Homo sapiens: one gene and its partners. Changing the gene in region 3 together with the main gene of any one other region gives a genetic interaction. Each region holds a gene or a part of one and is shown on either strand. Other genes may lie near its edges. The genes, in order: SERPINB6, RAD54L, PTEN, SUV39H1, ENO2, IFIH1 and ZC3H7A.

Region 1 (3,500 bases), on a different chromosome or scaffold from region 3:
CACTAAATAGCATTCGATGCTAAGCCAGGTGGTGGGATGGGAACCCATTTCCTTTTTATGTAATGCTGATTTGCCTTATATTAATAGTGCCTTTCCCCCCTTTCCTTAGTTTTCTATGTACTATGTATTTTCAAATTCTCCCCAAATGTTCTACAGGTCAGTCAAACCCTTTCAGTACTTTTTTCATATGCTTCGACACAAGGAATAATCTACCAGCTGCATTTTCCTCTCCCTCCGTCTGTCACCATGCTGCTGAGCATGCGCGACTTTCACGCCGAAGAGAAATGTTCATAGACGGGGACAAGTTTCCCTACTATAATACATGGCCAATTTATAGTTTGGCAGGCTGGTCAGACTAATTTTTTTTCTCAAACACAGCACATTGCTTACAGGGCAAAGAAATTATTTTTTCTTATTTAAGTGTTGATGACATATTTTAATATGTCTAATTTTTTAATGCTTTATGCAAACTTACAAATTGCACAAACCTTAGTAGACTTTTGAACTTCTACAAATCTGATAAATCAAGACATATAAATCTAGTAAGCTAGCCTCTCCTAAGACTTTCAAACAGTACAATGATTACAAAACTTATTTCTATACCTGTACTTATGTCTAGCAAAAGTTATTCATTAATATCACAGATTTAATTATTTTATCTTTGTTATATTTTCCTATTCCTTTCCTAAGGTAACACTAATGCTTATTTTAACAGTTTCCTATGGGGAAAATTAATCTTATGGGGTTAAATCCTAAGGGATCATCCCTTTCTGTAAAAACAGGGTGGGGCTCCCTGGTTCATGGTCTTTGTGCATCAAAGCAGTTTCTCAGCACAGGGCACACACTCTTTGATGCCAAGCATATCTGACTAGTTAGGGCAGCTTTGAGCTCCAATCCTGCCTTCACTGAGATTTTATAAGGCCTCAACCAAACACCAAATTTCAGTGTCTTGTAGCCTGATGTCCTTCCTTAAAATGAAATACGGAGTTTTCCTCTATCTGAGTTGCATAGACCAGTGTTGTATGGTATAACTTGGTCTTTTTGTTGAATGTTTAGGCCTTTAAGTTGGTTTTTACAACTACTGTGTTTGTTAGCCCAGGAAGCTATAATAACTAAACTTTTTCCATAGCAATCCTAGACACAGTGCAAACATTACTGAATTCTTTTGTGCCTTTTTAAGGCTCATCTTGTTTGCCTCATCTGAACTTATTAATGAGCTTGGGCTTTTTACAAACAATATATTTCAATTTGCTGATGTTTTTTTTTCTTCTTGTTCTAATTGGCTGGTGGGAATCTCTTTAAATTAGTTACTTTCCCTCCAAACACACTTACTTTATATGCAGGAGTCCCCAGCAGATCCGTCTGTGGTCTGTTAGGAACTGGGCCACGCAGCAGGAGGTGAGCAGCAGGTGAGCGAACATCACCGCCTGAGCTCCACCTCCTGTTAGGTCAGTGGCAGCGTTGGAGTCTTGTAGGAGAGTGAACCTACGGTGAACTGTGCACGTGGTGATCTTGGTTGCATGCTGCGTATGAGAATCGAATGCCTGATGATCTGAGGTGGAACAGTTTTATCTTGAAACCATACCCCCAACTTTATCAGTGGAAAAACTGTCTTCCACAAAACCAGTCTGGTCCCTGGTGCCAAAAAGGTTGGGGACCATTGCTTTAAAGCAACAGCAAAGTCTTACCAAACCATTTTAGATTTTTCTAGTCCAAAGACTAGATATGATAGGTGCACACCACCACGCCCAGTTCATTTTTATTTTTTGTAGAGACAGGGTCTCGCTCGGTGGCCGAGGCTGGTCCCAAACTCCCGGCCTCAAGCTATCTTTCCACGTTGGCTTCCCAAAGTGCTGGGATTATAGGCATGAGCCACCAAGCCTAGCTTGGGAAAAAAATGTAAGGCACTTGCTGATTTCCTCCAGACTGGCTCTTTGTTCTCTTTTTCTGTCAAGTACAAAACTCTTAGACTGATATCATCTGGGACTTCTCACCTTTCTCCAGGCTGTGACACACACAGAAAATGATGTTTGTATGTCACTTTGGGGCCAGGCTACTCACCCCAAAGGTGACCAGTGCAGAGCTCCAGCCACCCAGACTCCTCGAGTTGGAGGGATCTGTTAACCTGCCCAGGGCACAACACCCACACACAAGTTAGAAAGTTCTGCTCTGGAAGACTGAAACTGGACCCCTTCCTTACATACACCATGTACAAAAATCAACTCAAGATGGATTAAAGGCTTAGATGTAAAAGCCAAAACTATAAAAAACCCTGGAAGACAATCTAGGCAATACCATTCTGGACATAGGAACAGGCAAAGATTTCATGACAAAGATGCCAAATGCAATCACAACAAAAGCAAAAATTGACAAATAGGATCTAATTAAACTTAAGCACTCCTGCACAGCAAAAGAAACTATCAACAGAGTAAACAGCCAACCTACGGAATGGGAGAAAATATTCACAAACTATGCATCTGACAAAGGTCAAATATCCAGCATCTATATGGAACTTAAACAAATTTACAAGAAGAAAACAAACAACTCCATTAAAAAGAAGGCAAAGGACATGAACAGACACTTTTCAAAAGAAGACATTCATGCAGCCAACAGCCATAAGAAAAAAGGCTCAGTATCACTGATCATTAGAGAAATGCAAATCAAAACCACAATGAGATACCATCTCACGCCAGTCAGAATGGCTATTATTAAAAAGTCAAAAATTAAGAGATACTGGCAAGGTTGTGGAGAAAAGGGAACACTTACACACTGCTGGTGGGTGTGTAAAACAGTTCAACCATTGGGGAAAGCAGTGTGGCGATTCCTCAGAGCTAAAAACAGAACTACCATTCAACCCAGCAATCCCATTACTGAGTATACAACCAGAGGAGAGAGGAATAGAAATCATTCTCCCATAAAGATACACGCACGCGAATGTTCACCGCAGCACTATTCACAATAGCAAAGACATGGAATCAACCTAAATGCCCATGCATGGCAGATGGGATAAAGAAATTGTGGTACATATACACCATGGAATACTATGCAACCATAAAAAAGAATGAGATCATGTGTTTTGCAGAAACATGGATGGGGCTGGAGGCCATTATCCTTAGCAAACACACGCAGGGAACAGAAAACCAAATACCGCATGTTCTCACTTATGAGTGGAAGCTAAATGATGAGAACGTGGACACAAAGAGGGGAGCAACAAACACTGGGTCCTATCAGAGGGTGGAGGGTGAAGGGTGGGAGGAGGGAGAGGAAAAAATAACTATTGGGTACTAGGCTTAGTACCTGGGGGATGAAATAACCTGCACAACAACCTGCGACATGAGTTTACCTATGTCACAAACCTGCGTATGTATCCTGAACCTAAATAGAGGTTTAAAAGGTTAAAAAAAAAAAGAAGAAATCATATAAATGAATGTTCTCTTCTGACCTTATTCCCTCATTTACACTTTTCATCATGATATTTGATTCCATTTTGCCTTCTATAC
Region 2 (3,500 bases), on a different chromosome or scaffold from region 3:
TCACACCTGCATTCACATTCCAGCTTACTATGTACTCGCTAGGAGAACCTGGGCAAGTCACTACGCACTTCCCTGAGTTTGTCTCCTAATCTTTAAGATTGAGATGACGATGACGTCAATCCCTCTGCTATTTATACACTTGTACAAAGTGCTCCCATATATCCTCTCTTGATCTGTATCATATCCCTTTCAAGTAGCCCATGTGCCATCCACTCTACAGATGAAGAAACAATCTCAGAGCAGTCTCATCTGTGGAAAGTCACGCTTGTAAGTGGCAAAGCCAGAGCTGATCCCGTGTCTTTTGATTGAGGATCAAAGATTTTGTACATAGAAGTTATTATGAAAAACTGTGTTCCAGAGAAAAGCGTTACTGGGAGGAAGATGCTGTGGGAGCTGAGAACATGAAAGCCTGAAATGGCACCTTCCCTTTCCAGGGTCTGAACAGGACAAACCCTCTCCTTCCCTGGAGTAAGGTGACCATCTTTTCAGGACTTTTGGTTCCTCAGATCTCTGACAGTTGACAAAATAAAAGGTAAACAAGTAGAAAGGTAAACAGCCAAGGGGCTGCAGTGTGATAAGAGGCAGCCTCATCCCTTGTGCCCTGCACAGAGTCAGCTCATAAAACAGGACAGAGTGGGGAAGAAAAAAACACTAAGGAGTAGAAAAAGGCTGGGCACGGTGGCTCAAACCTGTAATCCCAGCACTTTGGGAGGCCAAGGCCGCAGATTATTTGGGGCCAGGAGTTCGAGACTAGCCTGGCCAACATGGTGAAACCCCATCTCTACTAAAAATACAAAAATTAGCCAGAGTGGTGGTGCACGCCTGTAATATCAGCTACTCGGGTGGCTGAGGCAGGAGAATTACTTAAATATGGGAGGCAGAGGTTGCGGTGAGCCAAGATCACGTCACTGCACTCCATCTGGACAACAGAACAAGACCCTTGTCTCAAAAAAAAACAAAAAGTAGAAAAAAATTTAGATGCTCCCTAATCCTCAAAGGCTCAACAGCTACAGCCTGCCTTCCTCTCCCACAATGCTTTGGACCTGGCTCCTGGCATAGTCCCCCTCCACAGTGATGAAGCAGATGTCAGGGCCTTGAACCACAGGGCAGTAACATGCATACCTCACCTCAACCTGGTAAGTTCCCTACTCCTACCAGGAAGTTGGGAGTTTGAAGACCCGCCAATGACTGACCAGAAAATAGCTCACAACTAGAAAGCATGGTACCCAAAAGCAAGCTTTTTCCCTCTGTCCCCTCTCTGAAGTTCCTCAGACAACTGGGCTAATCTACAGTACCCAGAGCTGAGCCTAGCCTGACAACTGGTTGACAGATAGGGCCAAGTCTTTCAGCCACCTCTCCACTAGAACCTCTGGGGTATACAAAGGAGGTTAACTCTCCCAAGAAGTTGCAAACAATGACTATAGCCTCAGGGTCGCCAAGCCCACTGGGAAGTCCTGGGAAATTCTCTATAGTAGGAAGCTCCCAGCCACCCTCACTGCTTCCTAAGTACTAGCCTCTCTATTGCCATTCACACATACTGGAAAAGGCCAGGAAGTAACTACGGCCATATTCCCTTAGTTCCAGAAACAAGAAACAAGAAGTCAACACAAACTACTACTACAAGGTGTATGGACTTTCTTATCTCTGCTTTTGTTCTTGCAAGTACCCCCAGCCTGGAATAACCACCAAGAGCTTACGTTTGCCAAGGCCTTATGACATACCAGGCACTGCGATAAGAGCTTTTTCTTAATAATTTCATTTAATCCTCACAATAATCCTATGAGGCAGATATTATCACCCCATTTTACTGATGTAGAAACAGAGGTTCAGCTGATAAAGTAACTTGTTGAAGGTCACACTGCTGGTCAGTGGCAGAGCCAGGATACAAATAAAGGTCTCTAACTCTAGAACCTGTTCCCTGTGAAAGGAAAACAAAATCTCAGGACCCCAAACTATGCCAAAGGGAAAAGCTAAGCTTGGGAACTAGTCAAGCAAAAAAATGTCTTTCCTTTTGTTCCTAAACAGATAGCTGCAGATAGAACGCCATGCCTCTCCCCAGGTGGCCTCCCTCACCCTGACAATGTAAAAAAACAGCTCATCTTTACAAGCAGGGGACAAAGACAAGACTAGAAATCCTCCCTCCCAGACAAATGTGTATTTGACTTCTTCCTCTACTCTTTATTTACTTAACTGTATGTAAAATCAGATTTATTGAGCTGAATGCATAACTGATGGCTCCTCTTTCCCTCCTGCCTGCTCTTGCCCCTTTATGCATATTTGTGTGGTGTTGTTTTTTGAGAAAGGGTCATGTGTGTCTGTGTATATGTGTGTTTTTTGGTTTTTATTTTGTTTTTTTGAGACAGAGTCTTGCTCTGTCACCCAGGCTAGAGTGCAGTGGCATTATCTAGGCTCATTGCAACCTCCACCTCCCGGGTTCAAGAGATTCTCCTGCCTCAGCCTCCTGAGTAGCTGGGATTACAGGCACCCACCACCACGCTCGGCTAATTTTTGTAGTTTTAGTAGAGACACGGTTTCACCATCTTGGCTGGTCTCAAACTCCTGACCGCATGATCCGCCCGCCTCAGCCTCCCAAAGTGCTGGGATTACAGGTGTGAGCCACCGCGCCCGGTCATATGTGTGTTTTGAGACAGGGTTTCACACCCCATCACCCAGGATGGAGTGCAGTGGCGCAATCTCAGCTTACTTCCCGGGCTCAGCTGATTCTCCCACCTCAGCCTCCTGAGTAGCTGGGACTACAGGTGCACCACCAAACCTGACTATTTTTATCTTTTTTAAGTAGAGGTGGGGTTTCACCATATTGCCCAGGCTGGTCCCAAACTCCTGGGCTCAAGTGATCCACTCACCTCAGCCTCTCAAAAAGTGCTGGGATTACAGGCGTGAATCATCGTGGCCAGCCCCCCTTTAAATATTGAAGTCCTCAAAAACCTCTTTGGAAAAAGTACAGGCTACAGATCCTACTTTGGCTTGTGTCTCTTTTTCCCCAGAGCATCCTCAACCTTGGCAAAATAAATCTCTAAATTGAGACTTGTCTCAGACACTTTCTGATTTATATCCTCTAAACATTGCCACCCACCCTTCAAGGTCCTTCTTTAGTCTAGGAATACTATCCGGAGGCAACAAAGCCAATCAGCCCCCAGTATCTCACTCTCCTCAGGGTTCTAAGCATTGTTTCAGCCCTCTTTTGGCAGACAGTATCTTGTATTTTGGTATCACAGGCTCTCCCTGTCACTTGTCTCCAAGGCAGCATCCTGTCTTCAGCATTCCCCAGTGACTAGCACAGCCCTTGGAAGGCAATACTCAGTGAAGAGATTTTGACAGATTTTCTCCTACCACCCAGACTGCTGAGAGTCAAGTACCTCGTCACATATGACCAGACCAACACTTCCTTTCTGGAGGACTCCAACATGAAGGCGGAAGGTCTCATAGGAAATGATGAGGATGGGAGAAGACACCCTGGCTCCACGCTGGTTCATGAATCC
Region 3 (3,500 bases):
ATTGCTGCAACATGATTGTCATCTTCACTTAGCCATTGGTCAAGATCTTCACAAAAGGGTTTGATAAGTTCTAGCTGTGGTGGGTTATGGTCTTCAAAAGGATATTGTGCAACTGTGGTAAAAAGATAACCTCAGAATAAGAAAAAAAAACTCTTGAATTTTTAATTAACAAGTAGGTAACTTTAGAAATGTTGCATACAAACTTAACAGGTATTTAAAAGAAACACTGGATTCCAGAGAAAAATAATGTATTGCTTAACTTTCTAATTGTTAAATAGAAAATAGTCTCTTGATAAGTCTTAAATATAATCATTAAGGAAGCCAGGTATTATTTTCCCCCATTTTATTCAGGAGGATATATTCTGGGAATTTACGCTATACGGACTGGTAGCATAGGTCACATATTAGAGGTAGAGCTAAACCCAAAATGAACTGTCACATGGACATTTCGTCAGGACTCTCAATGCAAAAGGAATAATACTATTTATAGTATTTATTTCATCATCACAAAACATATTCCAAAGACAGAATAGATTACTAATAGGATAAACTATGCAAAGAACTACATATTACATTTCATAAAATAAAAATGCTAAGTGTGTTATTTAAAGGTGGTCTTGCAAATGTTAGTGTTGTATACACATGTAATCATTAGGGAAGCCAAGTATTATTTTCCTCCATTTTCTGCAGGAGAATACATTCTGGGAATCTATGCTCAATGGACTGCAGCATAGGTCACATACCAGAGATATGTGAAGGCATACACCAAAGAAATTACTCACAAAATGTATATAATTGTTATCAAAGTTTCAGGTCTTCTCACATGAATTGTAAGAGTCCAAGACTTCTCTGTTCACTATAGTCAGAGTTGAGGTTTTTAAAAAAACTTGTTTAGAAACAGGACTATAGATATATCACTATTAATTGCTCTTAATAGTTTCTACCTTAGTTCCACTCTATTAAGATCCTTAAAAACCCTGGCTGATATTCAATGTACTAACCTGTGTCATCTAAATATGTGAGAAGTATGTCTTATATCTCCAATCAGGTGACTCATAATATGGTACAGGATATAATCAATTATCCTTTGGTGTGACAGGAGAGATCTTCTGGTAGACAATGACTATCATTATAAGGAGTCAGCAGGACAGCTTTCACTTAGTCATCTGCCTAACTTCATTTTCCCAGTGGTACACAAAAACCTCCAGGAAAATCTGTTAAATATCTGTTTAAAGCAAGATAAACCTCAACTAAAGCCTGCTTTGCTTAGTAAGCAACAGCCTAAATCCACCAAAAACAAAAACAAAAAAAACCCGTTCTTAGTAAACCTATACTAAATCTCAATCATTAGTGATTTAGAATTTTCAAACCATTTGTCTGAAAGTCCATTCTAGATTTTCAGGAGGGATCAATGGCAAATACATCAATAGTAGCTCATGGCACCCACTTTCTTTTTGACTATCACAGCAGCATCTGCCAAGCTTCTCAACTCTTCAGTTTTCTCATGGTTTAAAGTGTTAAGCCATGAGAACTGAGTTGTATTTCACAAATAAAAGTGAAAGTTTTTGTGGGCTCTGAGAATTAACTTATGTCTGAAGTAGAAACTCATTTAAAGCAGTTCCCTCCTCTCATCCATCAGACTCCTCTTATCAACATTTGTTATATCCTTTCCTACCTTTTATGTCATTCCTCAACACAGAAGAGTTAAGTAGTTCTGCTTTCTCCCTGTGATTGCTTACTATTAGACCAACTGCCTCAAATAGTAGGTAAACCCTCTCCTTATACTATTTTTAGTCTAGGAATTTTCCTAATTCTTAGTCTATGCTGCACTTTAGTCTTCCTGACAATATTAATAGCTTTATGCAATACTTTTTCCTAAAACACAACAGTAAAATTAAAATTTTTGAAATTTTTAAAGATAATTCTTAAATATGTATCTCACTCGATAATCTGGATGACTCATTATTGTTATGACAGTAAGATACAGTCTATCGGGTTTAAGTTATACAACATAGTACAGTACATTCATACCTACCTCTGCAATTAAATTTGGCGGTGTCATAATGTCTTTCAGCACAACTAAAAGAAAAGTTTAAAAGTGATATAAAGTTATCTTTTGCACTTAGGAAGAAAAAAAAGTACTAATACTAACAAACATTGCCTGAATCTTTATAATGTGACACATATTATGCTGTGTTTAACATTAATTATTTCATGTAATAACAAGAATTCTATTAAGTAGATACTGTTATCACCCCCATATTATAATAATAAAACCAAAGCTTAAAAGATTAAGTGTATGCAATTAGAGCTAATACATTTGCTTAAAAACTTGTGATGCCACTAATACAGAGTACTGTAAATTCAGGTGCTTCCATGCTTTCAAATTTCCTCTATGAAAAATCTGCATGCTATTGGAATATATTTTTAATTTTACAAGTACCTATAAACAACTGACTAGTTTCAATAGTATCTGTATCTCATAGTTAAGCATACATAATTCTCAAACTATTCTTCAAAAAGATATATGTTAAAAATAGTAAAAGCATAAGGACAGTAAAGAAAAACTGAATGTTGTTAATCTACTTGGCCAAATGCTTACTAATTTTTTTTTAAACCAGACCTTACTCCCTGTTGAAAAGCCAACGATCACCTTTTTCAACAGTCTCTCAGATTGCAAGTTTTAATTACAGTATGAGAGTAATGAAAGAATAAGTAAAATCAATACAGAATAGTAAAATGCTGACTTGTCATTACTAGAGTATGCTAATATTTGTCTTAATAGCAGTGATATGTTAGTATGTACTGGCTTTCTAATGATTAACAGGCCATGTTTACAAACAATAAAAGGCTCAGAAAGAGATCTTACATATCAGTGTGGTTAGCAGTACCCTGGTAACTCCAACTACTATGCAAAACAAATTTTTTAAAAATTACTTAAAATAAACTCTTAGCATTTTAAAACAAATAAAGGTCCATAGCTCCTTAACCTGCAATTTCAATATCCCAAAAGTTCAAAACATCTAAAATTTTCTCTTAAGTTTTATGGCAAACTCAACTACAGCAAATCCTGATCTGAAGTAATAAGATTGTACATAATATTTAATACACTTAGAGCGAAGAGTAAAACATTTCATTTCAGGTACTGACCCACACCCCACTGGGGTGTTTATGTAAAAGTATATTTATCTGTGCTACCTTTTGAAAACTAAAATTTCTGAAAATGGAAACATACTTGGCCCCAAGAGTTTCAAATAAGTGATTGTGAACCTGTATTGTACATTTAGAAACCCTGAAAAACATCTATATAGTTTCTTCTCTACCTTAAAGGTAATTCAAAACCAAATTCACATGAAGGTTTAACTAATTATAAATAAACTACAATCCATTGGTTTCTAACTGGTCAGACCTAAAATAAAACAACTTTCATACTACCACTCAAAACAAAACAAGCTTTTCCTTTTTAGTACAATTTAGTATATTGAGTTTTTCTAGAAAGA
Region 4 (3,500 bases), on a different chromosome or scaffold from region 3:
CTAAAGAATTTTCCTTGGTTCTCTGAGTGACTGGTGTGCCTTTGGGAGGGGTCCTTGTGTCCCAAGTCACAGTGCGCCCCTGCCCCCAGTCCCTTGCCACCCCCACCTTGCATGTTGTAATCAAAGGTGAGCTCCTCGCCTGCCCGGATGGTTCTTGTGGCAAAGAAAGCGATGCGGGGCAGCCGCTCGTCAAGGTTGTCTATGAAGACGTTGTACACCTGCAGGTTGGGGTCACACTGGGCGAGAAAGAACAGTTGGGAGAGTGAGGAGGGGCTCCAGCCTGCCCCTCTCGACCCCTTGCCCGCCTGCCGGGGGTACCCACACTGTGGTTGACAAAGTGGGAGATGTTGCCATAGTAGGCGGCATCCACGGTGTACACGTCCTCCACGTAGTCCAGGTCAAAGAGGTAGGTGGCGCCCTGACGGTCGTAGATCTGGCCCCGCCGCTCTGCCTCCTCTGAGGTAATGATCTAGGGAAAGGGCCATGGGTAAGGGGAGATTGGCCGCGAAGTCTCAGGAAAGCCGGCACTGCTCCTGACTTCTGAAGGACAGGGAGCAGGAGGCACCCCTGCCCGTGGACACACATGGGCAGTGACGCAGAGAGTCTGTCGGCCCTTCCTGAGGAGCTGGGCCTCAGCTGGCAACTGCCTGGCCCGCCTCAGGCCTCTGGCTAGCAGGAGGAGTCCCTGGCGGTGAGTGCAGGCTGGCCTGGCTGCAGGGCCCAACTGGGGCCACGCGAGCACCTCCTGCCGCCACCCAGCAAGAGCTGCCCAAGAACCCCTGGAGCCTCCAGTGCCTTGGGACGGAGCAGGAAGGTGATCAGGAGAGACCAAAGCAAGGGCAAGAAAGAAAGTGACCCAGGGTGCCACAGGGAGAGATACTTACTGATCCAGGCAAGGGAGCCTGAGCCCATGCAGGACCCAGCAGGGAGGGCGTGGAGAGAGGGGAAGAAGAGACCCAGGCCATGGGGAAAGGGGGCAAGGGCCTCAAGACAAGAGAGGTGGAGGCAGAGGCAGAGGGAGGCCCAGGTTCAGAGAGCCAGAAAGAGGCTGAGGCCACACACTTCAGAGACAGCAGCAGAGGAGGAGGAAAGATGAAGGGAGAGCACAGTGAGAGAAGCTCTCCCTCGGCCCAGGGCTGCGCAGTGCCAACTGGTGCTTCAGACGGCAGTGGGTGCCTCCTCCCCAGCTGGTTCCCTACCTGTCCTAGGAAATGGGAAGCTTTGCTGCCATCCTAGCCCCAGCCTGTCCTTGCCTCCCAATCCACGCCAACAAATCTCCGGCCCCATGGCCCCTCTTCCCTGAGGCCAGCAACGGCAGCCTCCTGCCAATCCCCAAGCGTAGCTGACCAGGCCCTTCCCTGGGTAGGGGTCCCACTGTACCTCAGCCAAGAACAGTGCACAGCACACAGGAGACACATGGGGACTGCTGTTTACTTTGATTCTGCTTCCTGGCTTAGCAGCCTGTCCTCTGTCCAAGTGGCGGCCCTCCAGGTAGCTCCAGTACTCCCCCGCCACACTTCTTCCTTCCCCTCCCTTCTCCAGAGACCCCTCTCGGGCTTCCTTCCTTGCTCACCCTCATGTGGGCCGGTGACCATGCCCTTCTGACTTGGGAATCCATCTCCTTAGCTAGGATGGCCACACTGGTGTTCTCCCTGGCTGTCCCCTCAAGGCTGTGTTCCATGCCAAAGGCTGACTAACAATGCCTTGAGGAAACCAAGATTTACCCTGCCTCGGGCCACACTACCCACTGCCCCGTGCTCCAGTTCTGTTCCTTGAGGAACCTGGCTCCCTTGCCAGGGTTTTTATTGAGGCCTTCCTTGTGCCCAGTCCCAGCATGCAGGGCTCACGGTCTGATCAGGGAGACACAGGGACCAGGCCCGGTCCACTCTCAGGGGTCACAGGTGGGTAGGGGATACACAGGAACCAGGATTGGTCCCTGCCCTCAAGGGGTCAAAGTCTGGTCACAGAGAGACAGATTCACACACCCACAGTGTAAGACTGTGATCAGGAAACAGTGCTTAGGGCTTGAGGGGGAATGGAGAAGAGACGGATTCTCTAAAACGAGTTGCAGATCATAAAAGGGCTTTACCACCTGGTGGAAGAGTGGGGACTCTCTCCTAAGGGCCACAACATGAGGGTGGAATATGTCAAGATCAGTCTCCCTTCACCTCCTGGAGAACAGTCTTCCTTGTGGCATCAGCTCAAACAGATGGGACCTCTCTAGGCAGCCTTCCAAGCTTCCCGTTCCTCCCCTACCTCAGAAGCTGGCCACTTGTCTGATCAAGTCCTGGGATCAAAGGGCAGCCTCTCCCAGGCTCACAGGCCTAGTGGGTGGGGTATGAGCCATCTTTTTCACCGTAGGCCCTCCTTGAGCCAGGAGGAGTGCCCACATCCTTCCTAGTCTCCATCTTCATGCCTATTCTGCCACTACCTGCTCTCCCAGTCTCACCAGGAGTGAGTCATACTGCAGGCCCTCCAGGGCACAAACACTTCTTGGTTCCTTCTCATCTTCTTTTCAGTCCCATTCTCTAATGATTGGTCAACCCTGAAAGCTTGGGAACAGATGGGCCTGTCTCTGCTCCCTAACAGCTCTCCAGAATGAATGGAAAAGACAGGCTGTAAGCTGGCAGTTCCGAGAGGGTGCTGACGTGAATGGGAACTAGAAGACTTGGAGTCAGCTGCTGCTCTGCCCCCTCCTGGATATGGGATCCTGAATGTTCTCTCTGTGCCTGTTTCCTCAGCTAAAAAAAAAAAAAAAAAGCTACAGCCTGGCAGGGTACCAGTTTTAGATATTATTTGGGCCTTTATTTTTTTATCCATTGTACTACTTTTGTGATTTTAATCAAGTTATTCTACCTCTCTGGGCCTCAGTTTTCTCATCTGCAGAATGGGAATGACAGTGACAAAATCCCAACCTGACAGGGGCTGTTGTAAAGATCCATACAAGATCATGGACGTGAAAGGTGTTCCTGTTTCTGATAGGAGAGTGAGCAATGTTAGGAGTGGTTATGAGGACCAGTTATAAATGTAAGGCACACCCTTAATTTTATGTGCCCTTTACCAAGAAAGGAAAAACTGCTGTTAATTATAAATGATACACCATGATTTAATTAAGACATCTTCATTTCCGAGATGTTAAAATAGGAAGAAAATGCATGTTTTAGAATGGATAAAATAGGCTGGCATTGTCTCTTGGGTGAGGATGGGAATGTTCTGCAGGAACGTGAAAGTTCTGACCCAATGTGGGAGGCTGCAAAGGAGGGAAGGGCAGCTCCCGTGGAGGGAGCTCTTGGTACAGACTGTCAGTACATGTCCCAGCTGAAGAAGGACAGTAGATAGCATGGTGTGCAGATAGGCCCTTGATTCCGTAACACCCTGGCAGCATCTGGGACGGCACTACAGAATCAAGTAAATTAGAACTGCTGCAACGAAATGTATGACTATTACCCCAAGTAGGATAAATAAAAACTACAAATAGGACCCTATCCGGTCAGGCTGGG
Region 5 (3,309 bases), on a different chromosome or scaffold from region 3:
TGAGGACTCTGTTTCCTTAGGTCCTTCCGTATACTACCCCCGGAACCATTCTTCCTTCCCATTTCCCCATCTTGCAGTGGGTGATGGCCATGAAGTCCTGTTCCATTCGAGAACCAGCCAGGGTTTTGTTGGCAGAGGCCCAGTACAGGAGCTGCTCCAGTCCACAAGCCCTTTGGATATGAAAACACCTTAGACCCCCTTTCCCCCAAAATGCGCGTGCACACACACACACACACAAAATATTTTATGCTTTTAGGGGCTCTTGAACCCCTTAATTCACCTGCGTCTGGGAGCCAAGCCTTCTGCTAAGAAAGCAGGGGCCACATGCACCCCACCTAGCCAGAATGGGGTAGGCAGTGCCATCATCTCGGCCATATTTGTTCAGTTTGTCTTCCTCTTTTTGTGCCCCCCCAGCTCTGCTATCCAGTTTCACCAGCTTCCAGGTGCTCCATCTTCTCTCCCCTCATAGGGACTAGAGTAAGACTCCTTAGACACAACAGTGCACTGATTCAGACTTTAATGGAGGTGCTCATTTCAATGCCACAGAGGTGGTGGCAACTGTGGAACGTGGCATGGGGAGTGAGAGGTTGCTCTGGTGCAGCTGGAGGAAGAACAGGGAACCTAGGGTTGGGGAGAGATGTATAGAGGAAAACTCCCCCAGGCACACAGCCTCCGCTCTGGACCAACGCAGGCTTCAGTGAGTACACACAAAGGAACTGATGTCAAGGCCCTTTCTATGACCCTTCCCATTCTAGCAAGACCTCCCACCCCAGTCATCTTGGGATCTACAGCCACATGAAATACAGACACATCGTTCCCCCAAGTCAGGCCAGTTTTAGGCCATTGAGTTATGGGGAAATGATTAATGGGATGAATGAAAAACAAATAAAATAAATAAATAAATAAATACACTAAAGCCTTATTAGCCAGGCGTGATCACATGCCCAACACTCCCCTCCATCCCAGCACTATGCACAGTTCACGGCTCATATGCAAAGTGGAAGACACGTGGGACAAGAGCAAAGCACAAGTGACACATGGTCCCTCTCTAACACCTCAGCACACCAACCCTGACGCTCCCATCACAGATGCTGATCATTCTTCCACGGACCCCCTTTTATAATAATCCTCATTCACATTTCTAGTTTCTGAGGGAAGAGAGAAAGAGAAAGGAAGAAGTGGAAAGTGCGGAACCCCAATGAGTAGGGCACAGAAAGGAGGGCGAGCAGAGACAGCAAGAGGTCAGGTAAGCCAAGGAGCAGCGGAGCAGGTCAATCAGGGAAGTTCTGGGCACCCTGGGGCTCAGGGGATCTCAGGGGGTGAACTATCACAGATCAGGACAGCAAGGTTCCAGGAGGATGAGACAGAGGTTCCACGTCTCCAGGCAAGCAGAGGAATCACAGCACACTGGGATTACGGAAGTTATGTCCGGCAAAGCGAGCTTCATCCCCCAGCTCTTCCTCAATTCTGAGAGAGATGAACCACAAAGGAAGTGGTCAGGGATGCAGGAGGATCCTGCTTCTCTCTCTAGGGGTCCCCCAGACTCCAACCACCCCCACACCACCTGCTTTTGTGTCCTGCCCCAAGGCTTAGCATTCCCTGGCTTTCCCATGTGATCTCTGGGATTTGTCAATCAGGCCATCAATAAACCCAGGAAGCAAAAACCAATATTATCTGTTGGACTGTTATCCAGGAAATGGACTGTTATCCAGGCCCTTGGTGCTACAGATGGTCTGGCAGGCAAATGGGGCCTTTAGCCATCTGGGCCAGGGGCTCCCACCCCAGGGACCCTCACCTCATGAGCTGGTTGTATTTAGCCAGACGTTCAGAACGGCACGGGGCACCAGTCTTGATCTGAAACATTTCAAAGGATTTGCAGCTCAGTGACTGCCCTCTCACCCCTGAAAGGAAACTTCTGCTCTCCTGAAACTCCCCTGACACCCTCAAACACCTGGAAGGAGAGACCAGGTGGGTGAGCTAGAAATACCAATCCCACAGAGAGTTCTCTTCACTCACCAGGCTGCCTCACTCACCTGGCCTGTGCACAGCCCCACCACCAGGTCAGCAATGAATGTGTCCTCAGTCTCTCCTGAGCGATGACTCACCATGACCCCCCAGCCATTCTCCTGGGCCAGCTTGCACCTGTATCCACACACAGCACTGATTCTCCAGCTCTCACACTGGGCACTCTCTTCCCAGCCCCAACCTTGGTCTATGTCAGGAAACATCTAGGGGAAAGCTATCTGGGAGGGGAGCAGAGAATCAGGGGTGGAGGGGCAGAGGTGAGAGAACTGTGAGGATGATTCCAGGTTCCCCGCTCTCTTTGGCACCCCTGGGTAGAATTAGGCTGGAGCACTTGCAAAAGGAGTCTTATAGAAACGAGGACCACACAGGAGAGGGCCAGAAGTCACTCACGCTTGGATGGCTTCAGTGACCGAGCCGATCTGGTTGACCTTGAGCAGCAGACAGTTGCAGGCCTTTTCTTCCACTGCCCGCTCAATACGTTTTGGGTTGGTCACTGTCAGGTCATCACCCACAATCTGGATCCCTACATTGGCTGTGAACTTGGACCAGGCAGCCCAATCATCCTGGTCAAATGGGTCCTCAATGGAGACCACTGCAGAGAGAGCATGGTGGGGAGGGGGGAGGTGTTCATCTTCCCTGGGTCTCTACATCAGGCAGGAACATGCCCCTTTATTCCCTGAAATGGACAGGCCCTTGGTTAACTACACCTGCTCATCCTTGCTAAGACAAATCCCCCCAGTGTAAGCCTGCCCTAACTGATTCTTAACTTTTTTTTTTTTTTTGACAGAGCCTCATTCTGTCATCCAGGCTGGAGTGCAGTGGCACAATCTCAGCTCACTGCAACCTCCACCTCCCCAATCAAGTGATCCTGCCACCTCAGCCTCCTGAGTAGCAGGGACTTTAGGTGTGTGGCACCACACTCAGCTAATTTTTAAAATTTTTGTAGAGATGAGGTCTCACTGTATTGCCAGGCCAGTCTCGAACTCCTGGATTCAAGCAGTCCTCCTGCCTCGGCTTCCCAAAGTAATGGGATTACAGGCATGAGCCACCACGCCTGGCTCCTGATTCTTATTTCATAAAACCTTACATGGAGAGGCCAGGCACAGTGGCTCATGCCTGTAATCCCAGCACTTTGGGATACTGAGGTGAACGGATCACTTGAGGATAGGAGTTCCCTGGCTAACATAGTAAAACCCCATCTCTACTAAAAATACAAAAATTAGCCAGGCATGGTGGTGCACGCCTGTAATCCCAGCTACTTGGGAGGCTAAGAGAATCGTGCAG
Region 6 (3,500 bases), on a different chromosome or scaffold from region 3:
TTCCACAAAGCCGTTCTTGAATCATTTTCTAGAAGTATTCTTTCCATTTCATTTATGCAAGACAGAAGGCTTCTGAGGAAAAGAATGGAAATTAAGTTTAGTGGAAAGAGACAGCATGATGCAGAGGGAAGAAAGCCCTGAAAACAGCTACTCCAGCCACTTACTTCTTTGTACCTTGGACAAGGTCTCAATCATCTTAATGCTCTCAATTTCCAGATTAATAAAATGAGGATAATGTTAACCTATTATAGGGTTGTGAAAATTAAATGAAATAGAGGATGCTGTATTGTCAGTACTAAAACTTCCACGATATTTCACCAATCCTTTTATTCTAGAAGGAGGGTGCAGTGGCAAAGGAAGACCAGTGGACTCAGAAGATAAAAGTTCGTGTCTCATTTCTGCTGTTTCTTGGCTGGATGATCCCTGAATTGCCAATTAAAGTCTTGAAACTTCAGTTTTCTGATGGGAAAAAATGAGAATAATAAAGACTACCTTATGGGGTTGCTGTGTAGATTTAATGAGATAATATATCTGAGAGTGCTTTATAAAGTGCAATAAAATATTAATTATCATATTATCAACATATATCTCTCATCTTTCTTCTAGACTGTATATTTCGTGAGGACAAGATCTACATTTGATTTGTCTTTAAATACACTCATGCTGAATGATTTAATTAAGAATCTCTGTATTATGGAGTGACATTGCACCACAAAATTCTGCCCATAAAAGGTGAGTCAAAAATCTTCAAAAGAAGCCGCACCTTCTGATGTACAGAACAAAAAGAAGTTGTCACAGGAGATAGCAGATGCTGGAAATCCTGATACTCGCTCTGGGTGGTGTTGACTTCCTACTGAAGGACACAGAGAAAGCCAGATGCAAGTCTGACATGGCTAATTGGGAGGTGTGTGGTCCTCTTGGAGCCTTTTCTTGAGATGTGACAGAGTGCCTGCCAAGACTAATCAAACCCAACTGCTACCCACTTCTGCTGAATCATATGGGGCTGCATTGCAGCATCTGAAGGAACCTGGGATTTATCTCTCATGATGTTGAAGCCCTAGATAGGAAATGGAAAGTCTGGGAACACAGGTGGTGTTTTCATTTCTCTCTGCATTCGAAGGCTATAACTTTGGAAAGGACGGAGGAAGGGAGATGAAAGTAAATGGTGTTAGAGAACAGGATTTCTTTTTTCTAGATCAAGGGTAACAATACCTTGTTGTTGGGCCAAACACAAGATTCAGGTTACTTAGACTTACTGGGCCAGAGGTGTTCTGACTCAATCAAAAAGAATTAAAACTGAAATTAATTTAAAATTCAAAAAGATGGTATAGTAAACAATTATGACATAGATGGAAGAATTAGTGGAGGGATTTCTAGTAATTCTAAGGAGAAAAACAATAGAAAAGCAATAAGGAATTAGAGTCAAGTCCCCAGGTGTCCACACAACAATGCAGTGAATGTGAATAATTAATGAGGATAAATTAATATTTAAACATAGCCATAAATGTGCATTCCGAAGAATCATGTAGATCCAATGCAATGAAAGATTCCTGGCTAGAATATAGCATTGAGAAGAGAAGGGAATATTATAGAAAGGAAGATGCATCAGACACATACAAAAATATGAGACTTGAAAAGATCAATAGTTAAAGAAATAAACCTAAGTATTTGAATTTAGGCTCAGAAACTGACTGCACAAAAATAAATTAAGAATGTTCTAGTTTAAGAGATTTTCAAATAAAAAGGAACTGAGGATTTTGATTCTATGACAAGGTCCAGATAAGTCTGTGGATGCCAGAGGCAAATGCGGTCATAAGCTGGGTGTCATATCTCATGTCTCCTACGCTCTGCACTGGTATGATCTTATCTGTAGTATTTTGCCCAACTCTGGACACCGCATTTAAGAGTGTCCCAGAAAAATGTCTGAAGGAGTATGAGCACTAGGAATGATGACAGGTTTAGAAACCATGTTATATGGAAAACAGTTAAAGGAACTGTGGACATTTATTCCAAGGAACAACAAAAAAAAGTAACTTAGGAGCCACATGATGCTGCCTTGTCTATGTGAAGGGCTGTCATTAGGCTGGAGAATTAGGACTTCGTGTGGTTGCAGAGGAAGGAACTCTAACCGGTGATTGTGGGATTCCAGAGAAACAGATTTGGATGAATACAAATAGGGCTTTCTAAGAGTGTCAGTGTCTTGTTAGTAGGGGGACCTCCTTGATATTAGGAAGTTACCCTGCAGAAGTGAGAGAACCACTCTGCAAAGGAAGAAAGCTGAATCTCGAAGCCCCTTTTCAACTCTATTAGCCTATGTCCCTGTGACCAGATAAGGGAAATAAAGGAAGTAGATGAATTAAAACTAACTCCTAGGTGTGGGGGCTGCATGCTTTGGAGGAGGTGGTATTACTCACAAAGAGACAGGTAAATGGGGAAGAGGAGCCTTTGGGAGGGTAGATGGTGAGGCTGAGTTTGAGAAAATGGCAGATGCTCAAATGGTTTCAAAATTATCAGTTTAAGTAGCTTTGAATCCAGTTAACTTGGTTCTTTTCTTTGGATTTGGCACTTAAAAGCCTCCCTGGTTATGTTACTTAGTTTCATGAGTTATGAAGGTGAAGAGAAAGGAGCAGGAGAAAGCTAGTATTTAAGAGTAAAAGCAGGAGTCATTACTAGGCCATATATAATCCAATTGAAATTTCAGAGCAGGGTAGTTATTATTTTGTTCATTTTGCAGATGAAGAAATTAAAGTTAGAGAAGTTACTAATTTGTCTAATTCAAAGTACCGGTAGGTAGAAATAGGATTCAAACCTATTTCATTTAAAAAAATAATATCCTGTACAAAGGGAATACATATGCAAGTCTATCGGCAAACAAATTTGAATGTGTCACCATTACCAGCAAAATAAATAAAAGTGTTTTAATAGTAAGTATACAAGTATAAAGGAGAGCTCTTTGGACTTAGCAGATGCACACAAAATGCATTTGGAACTACATGATAGGAATCATTCAAATCATGGATTCTAAGTACTGAAAAACAGGATGTAACTAAAACTTTTAGCATAATAGAAATAAAAAATAGAATATTTTACAGTCTACTGCTTTTTTTTATAAAGGAATAGATAAGAACAGAAAAAAGACTTTCTGATCAAGGAAAAGTATGCTCATTTTTATTCCATAAAATAGTAAATATTCATATCCCCAATTTGTATATTTATAAATTAATAAACTGTCATTTATCTGAATAAAGCTCAAATGACTAGATTTTGTTTTACGGTGAAGCAGACATATTTACTTATGAAGATGGCCTTCAAATACCCTAAGATATAAATTATTGAAGGAAAACTTCAGTTGCATTTAATGTAATATGTGTATATTTTATATATATATATGTATACTTCTTGAGCATTTTAAAATCTATTTAACTTGATGTAGATACCAAACCTTCACTTAATTTTATCTCCAAACCACATTATATGTATTCTGGAGAAAGAGGACTTGC
Region 7 (3,500 bases), on a different chromosome or scaffold from region 3:
CTGCTAAGGAGCACTTTGCTACAGCATCGTAAGCCTTTTTGTATCTTCCTAAATCACTTAAAGCCTTAGATTTCCGATACAGAGCTTTGCAGTTACTGGCATTTAAACTGAGGACTATATTGCAGTCCTCCAAAACTTTATCATGGAAACCCTGGTGTGTAAGACCAAAGAATAAAGTCAGCAATCAAACAATTCATTTCTTGCACTGAGGCCTTCCTGTAATAAAAACAAATTAATACCCCATCCTATTACCCTCCCTCTAAACTCCAAGTTAGCAGTATTACTTTTATTTTTTAAATTATTTTATGAAATTTCAAATACAAAAAAGTAGAAAGAATATCATGAATACCCATGTACACACCATCCAGGTCAGACAAATGCTAATATTTGGTCAGAAAGTCCCCAGATCTTCAAGAAATAAAGCTTTCCAGACCTAACTGATGTCCCCATGTGTCCCTCTCCTATTCGCTCCTCTGTAGTTACCCTTTGCTGGAGCACATTAAGATGTCAAACAGAAACGTAACTCCAAACAGCTAACTGATAAGGAATATATTACCCAAAACAAAATAAATAAACAATGAATGCTCTTTAACAAAGAGCTAGGTGACAACACGGATATTTTTCTTAAATTCATGGTTATATTTTACCGAGTATCCACAGTGAAAATTAAAAGCACTTCAGGTTGGGCACAGTGCCTCACAGCTGTAGTCCCAGCACTTTGGGAGGCCGAGGTGGGTGGATCACCTGAGGTCAGGAGTTCGAGACCAGCCTGGCCAACATGGTAAAAACCCCATCTCTACTAAAAATACAAAAATTAGCCAGGCGTGGTGGCGGGTGCCTATAATCCCAGCACTCGGGAGGCTGAAGCAGGAAAATCACTTGAACCCAGGAGACAGAGGATACAGTAAGCCGAGATTGTGCCACTGCATTACAGCCTGGGCAACAGAGTGACACTCCATCTCAAAAATTTAAAAAAGGTGGCCAGGCGTGGTGGCTCATGCCTGTAATCCCAGCACTTTGGGAGGCTGAGGCGGGCAGATCACCTGAGGTCAGGAGTTCGAGACCAGCCTGACCGACATGGAGACACCCCGTCTCTACTAAAAATACAAAATTAGCCAGGTGTGGTGGTACATGCCTGTAATCTCAGCTACTCGGGAAGCTGAGGCAGGAGAATCTCTTGAACCCGGGAGACGGAGGTTACGGTGAGCCAAGATTGTGCCATTGCACTCCAGCCTGGGCAACAAGAGTGAAACTCTTGTCTCAAAAAAAAAAAAAAAAGTTTTAAAAGGAAAAAAAGAAAAAAAAGCACTTCAAAAGCTTTTAAGCTTAAAAATGTGAAAATCTAGTGTGAATTCCTTTGAAGACTAATTACTATTTCTTGATTTAAAAAAACACTCGCCAGGCACGGTGGCTCACGCCTGTAATCCTAGCACTTTGGGAGGCTGAGGCGGGCAGATTGCCTGAATTCAGGAGATCGAGAACAGCCTGGGCAACACAGTGAAACCCCATCTCTAACAAAATACAAAAAATTTGCTGGGCACGGCGGCATGCGCCTGTAGTCCCAGCTACTCGGGAGGCCGAGGCAGGAAAATTGCTTGAACCCAGGAGGCGGAGGTTGCAGTGAGCCGAGATCGTGCCACTGCACTCCAGCCTGGGTGACAGAGCGAGACACTGTCTCAAAAAAAAAAAAAAAAAAAAAAACACTCGTAAGAGTGTTTTTTACCAAGAGTGTTTTACAAGATCAACTGGATCTTGACTAAGATGTTAACTGTGAACAGGGATACCTGAAAGACACACTGACCTGTGAAGACCTGTATCTTCCCTGGATGACTTTTTTATAAGCAGACACACCTTCAAAAGCCATACTCAAATGGGAATCATCAAGGACCAATAACTAAGAAACAAATTATTTCTTAAATCCCTAACCTTCTGTCCAAAGCTAATTTTTATTTTTTTATTTTATTTTATTTTTTGAGACGGAGTCTTGCTCTGTCGCCCAGGCTGGAGTGCAGTGGCACAATCTCGGCTCACTGCAAGCTTCGCCTCCTGGGTTCAAGCGATTCTCCTGCCTCAGCCTCCCGGGCAGCTGGGACTACATGCACACGCCACCATGCCCAGTTAATTTTTTTATTTTTAGTAGAGACGGGGTTTCACCATATTGGCCAGGCTGGTCTCAAACTCCTAACCTCATGATCCACCCACCTTGGCCTCCCAAAGTGCTGGGATTACAGGCGTGAGCCACCGTGCCCGGCCAATCCAAAGCTAATTTTTAAAAGCCTCAAGCCACTCCAAAAGCAGGTAATATGACTTTCTTAAAAACTTAAGAAATTGACTTTTTATTAATGTACTAAGTCATTGAAAAAATTCTTTTCACTCTAGAAACATCATTTTAAAAATTACAACTCACCATATTAGAATAGCAGGCAATACGATTTATATATAGTTTTTCAATTATTTCTTTGGGGATTAAAATTTCTTCAGATTTTGCATAATCAGCTATATTCAAGGCTTCCGTGTACTGGCTTATCGAGTTGTTCCAATCATGTTCCCGATAAACGTCATTTCCTTCATTAAAAAGATTTCTCACGAGAGCACGCAAATATACCTAAAAAAAAGAAAGTTACCACTTGAAGCCTTTTATCAAACAAGATATGGTATAAGTAAATTTTAATTTTTATACCTAAAACTTCACAGGAAACAATGTGACAGAACAGCAGCATTGCTCTAAGAAATTGTGAGATGCAGCCCAAGTCACTGCTATCTCAGCTAGGGATTGAATCTTGCTTGCTTTTTCAAGGGGAAATTCAATTTCTCACTATTAAGAAAAATGCAGCAAAGTACCTTATAAATATTTGTTCACATCTCCAATTCTGTGCCCGCTAGAGAAACCAAGTGGAAGCCCCAAGTCAAAGAGAATGAATAGTTTAAGGCTTTTGAGCAGTATTTCCAAATTGCCTTCCAAAAAGGCCATGATGAAAAATGTTTCTAGTGGTTTACTTTATAGCACCCATACACACTAGGTAGTGTGTGTGTGTGTACACGTGTGTGGGTACCCGTGCACATATATGTAAAATCTACCAATTTCTAGGTGGAAAATGGTATCGTTTTGTGTTTATTTATTTTTTTTAATGGTATCCTCTTTGTATGTGCATGTCTTTACCAGTGAAGTTGAACTATTCCACATTTTTACGGACCCCTTGTATTTCTTTTTCTGTAAATTGCTCAGGTCATTTACTGATTTGGGGGGAGGGGGATGTTAAACTTTTTTCTTATCAAGTAAGTATACACATTCTTTTAGCATGTATAAAAGTTTGTCATTTTCCTTCATTATTTCTATCACGCTTTAGTTTAGTTCTTTTTTTTCTTTTCTTTTTTTTTTTTGAGACAGAGTCTTACTCTGGCACCCAGGCTGGAGTGCAGTGGCACGATCTCGGCTCTCTGCGACTTCACCTCCTGAGTTCAAGTGATTCTCGTGTCTTAGCCTCCCGAGTAGCTGGGAT

The links.
Region 1: changes in PTEN (region 3) and SERPINB6 together harm fitness more than expected from each alone (negative genetic interaction), as found in Homo sapiens cells (one large-scale study listed by BioGRID).
Region 2: changes in PTEN (region 3) and RAD54L together harm fitness more than expected from each alone (negative genetic interaction), as found in Homo sapiens cells (one large-scale study listed by BioGRID).
Region 4: changes in PTEN (region 3) and SUV39H1 impair growth when combined (synthetic growth defect), as found in Homo sapiens cells (one large-scale study listed by BioGRID).
Region 5: changes in PTEN (region 3) and ENO2 impair growth when combined (synthetic growth defect), as found in Homo sapiens cells (one large-scale study listed by BioGRID).
Region 6: changes in PTEN (region 3) and IFIH1 impair growth when combined (synthetic growth defect), as found in Homo sapiens cells (one large-scale study listed by BioGRID).
Region 7: changes in PTEN (region 3) and ZC3H7A together harm fitness more than expected from each alone (negative genetic interaction), as found in Homo sapiens cells (one large-scale study listed by BioGRID).

The regions. Positions count from the first base shown.
Region 1 is NC_000006.12:2,965,068-2,968,567, forward strand, and holds part of SERPINB6 (serpin B6), read right to left. Parts: intron 1,524-3,500; coding exon of another isoform or gene 1,333-1,523; intron 1-1,332.
Region 2 is NC_000001.11:46,261,263-46,264,762, reverse strand, and holds part of RAD54L (DNA repair and recombination protein RAD54-like), read right to left. Parts: coding exon 3,378-3,500; intron 1-3,377. UniProt on the Homo sapiens protein: Plays an essential role in homologous recombination (HR) which is a major pathway for repairing DNA double-strand breaks (DSBs), single-stranded DNA (ssDNA) gaps, and stalled or collapsed replication forks.
Region 3 is NC_000010.11:87,929,625-87,933,124, reverse strand, and holds part of PTEN (phosphatidylinositol 3,4,5-trisphosphate 3-phosphatase and dual-specificity protein phosphatase PTEN), read right to left. Parts: intron 2,080-3,500; coding exon 2,036-2,079; intron 113-2,035; coding exon 1-112. UniProt on the Homo sapiens protein: Dual-specificity protein phosphatase, dephosphorylating tyrosine-, serine- and threonine-phosphorylated proteins.
Region 4 is NC_000023.11:48,703,234-48,706,733, reverse strand, and holds part of SUV39H1 (histone-lysine N-methyltransferase SUV39H1), read right to left. Parts: intron 470-3,500; coding exon 323-469; intron 237-322; coding exon 107-236; intron 1-106. UniProt on the Homo sapiens protein: Histone methyltransferase that specifically trimethylates 'Lys-9' of histone H3 using monomethylated H3 'Lys-9' as substrate. Also weakly methylates histone H1 (in vitro).
Region 5 is NC_000012.12:6,920,889-6,924,197, reverse strand, and holds the end of ENO2 (gamma-enolase), read right to left. Parts: intron 2,618-3,309; coding exon 2,416-2,617; intron 2,143-2,415; coding exon 2,034-2,142; intron 1,855-2,033; coding exon 1,796-1,854; intron 1,669-1,795; exon of another isoform or gene 1,468-1,668; coding exon 1,398-1,467; 3' UTR 501-1,397; downstream 1-500. UniProt on the Homo sapiens protein: Has neurotrophic and neuroprotective properties on a broad spectrum of central nervous system (CNS) neurons. Binds, in a calcium-dependent manner, to cultured neocortical neurons and promotes cell survival.
Region 6 is NC_000002.12:162,284,185-162,287,684, forward strand, and holds part of IFIH1 (interferon-induced helicase C domain-containing protein 1), read right to left. Parts: intron 1-3,500.
Region 7 is NC_000016.10:11,776,759-11,780,258, forward strand, and holds part of ZC3H7A (zinc finger CCCH domain-containing protein 7A), read right to left. Parts: intron 2,606-3,500; coding exon 2,408-2,605; intron 152-2,407; coding exon 1-151. UniProt on the Homo sapiens protein: May be a specific regulator of miRNA biogenesis. Binds to microRNAs MIR7-1, MIR16-2 and MIR29A hairpins recognizing the 3'-ATA(A/T)-5' motif in the apical loop.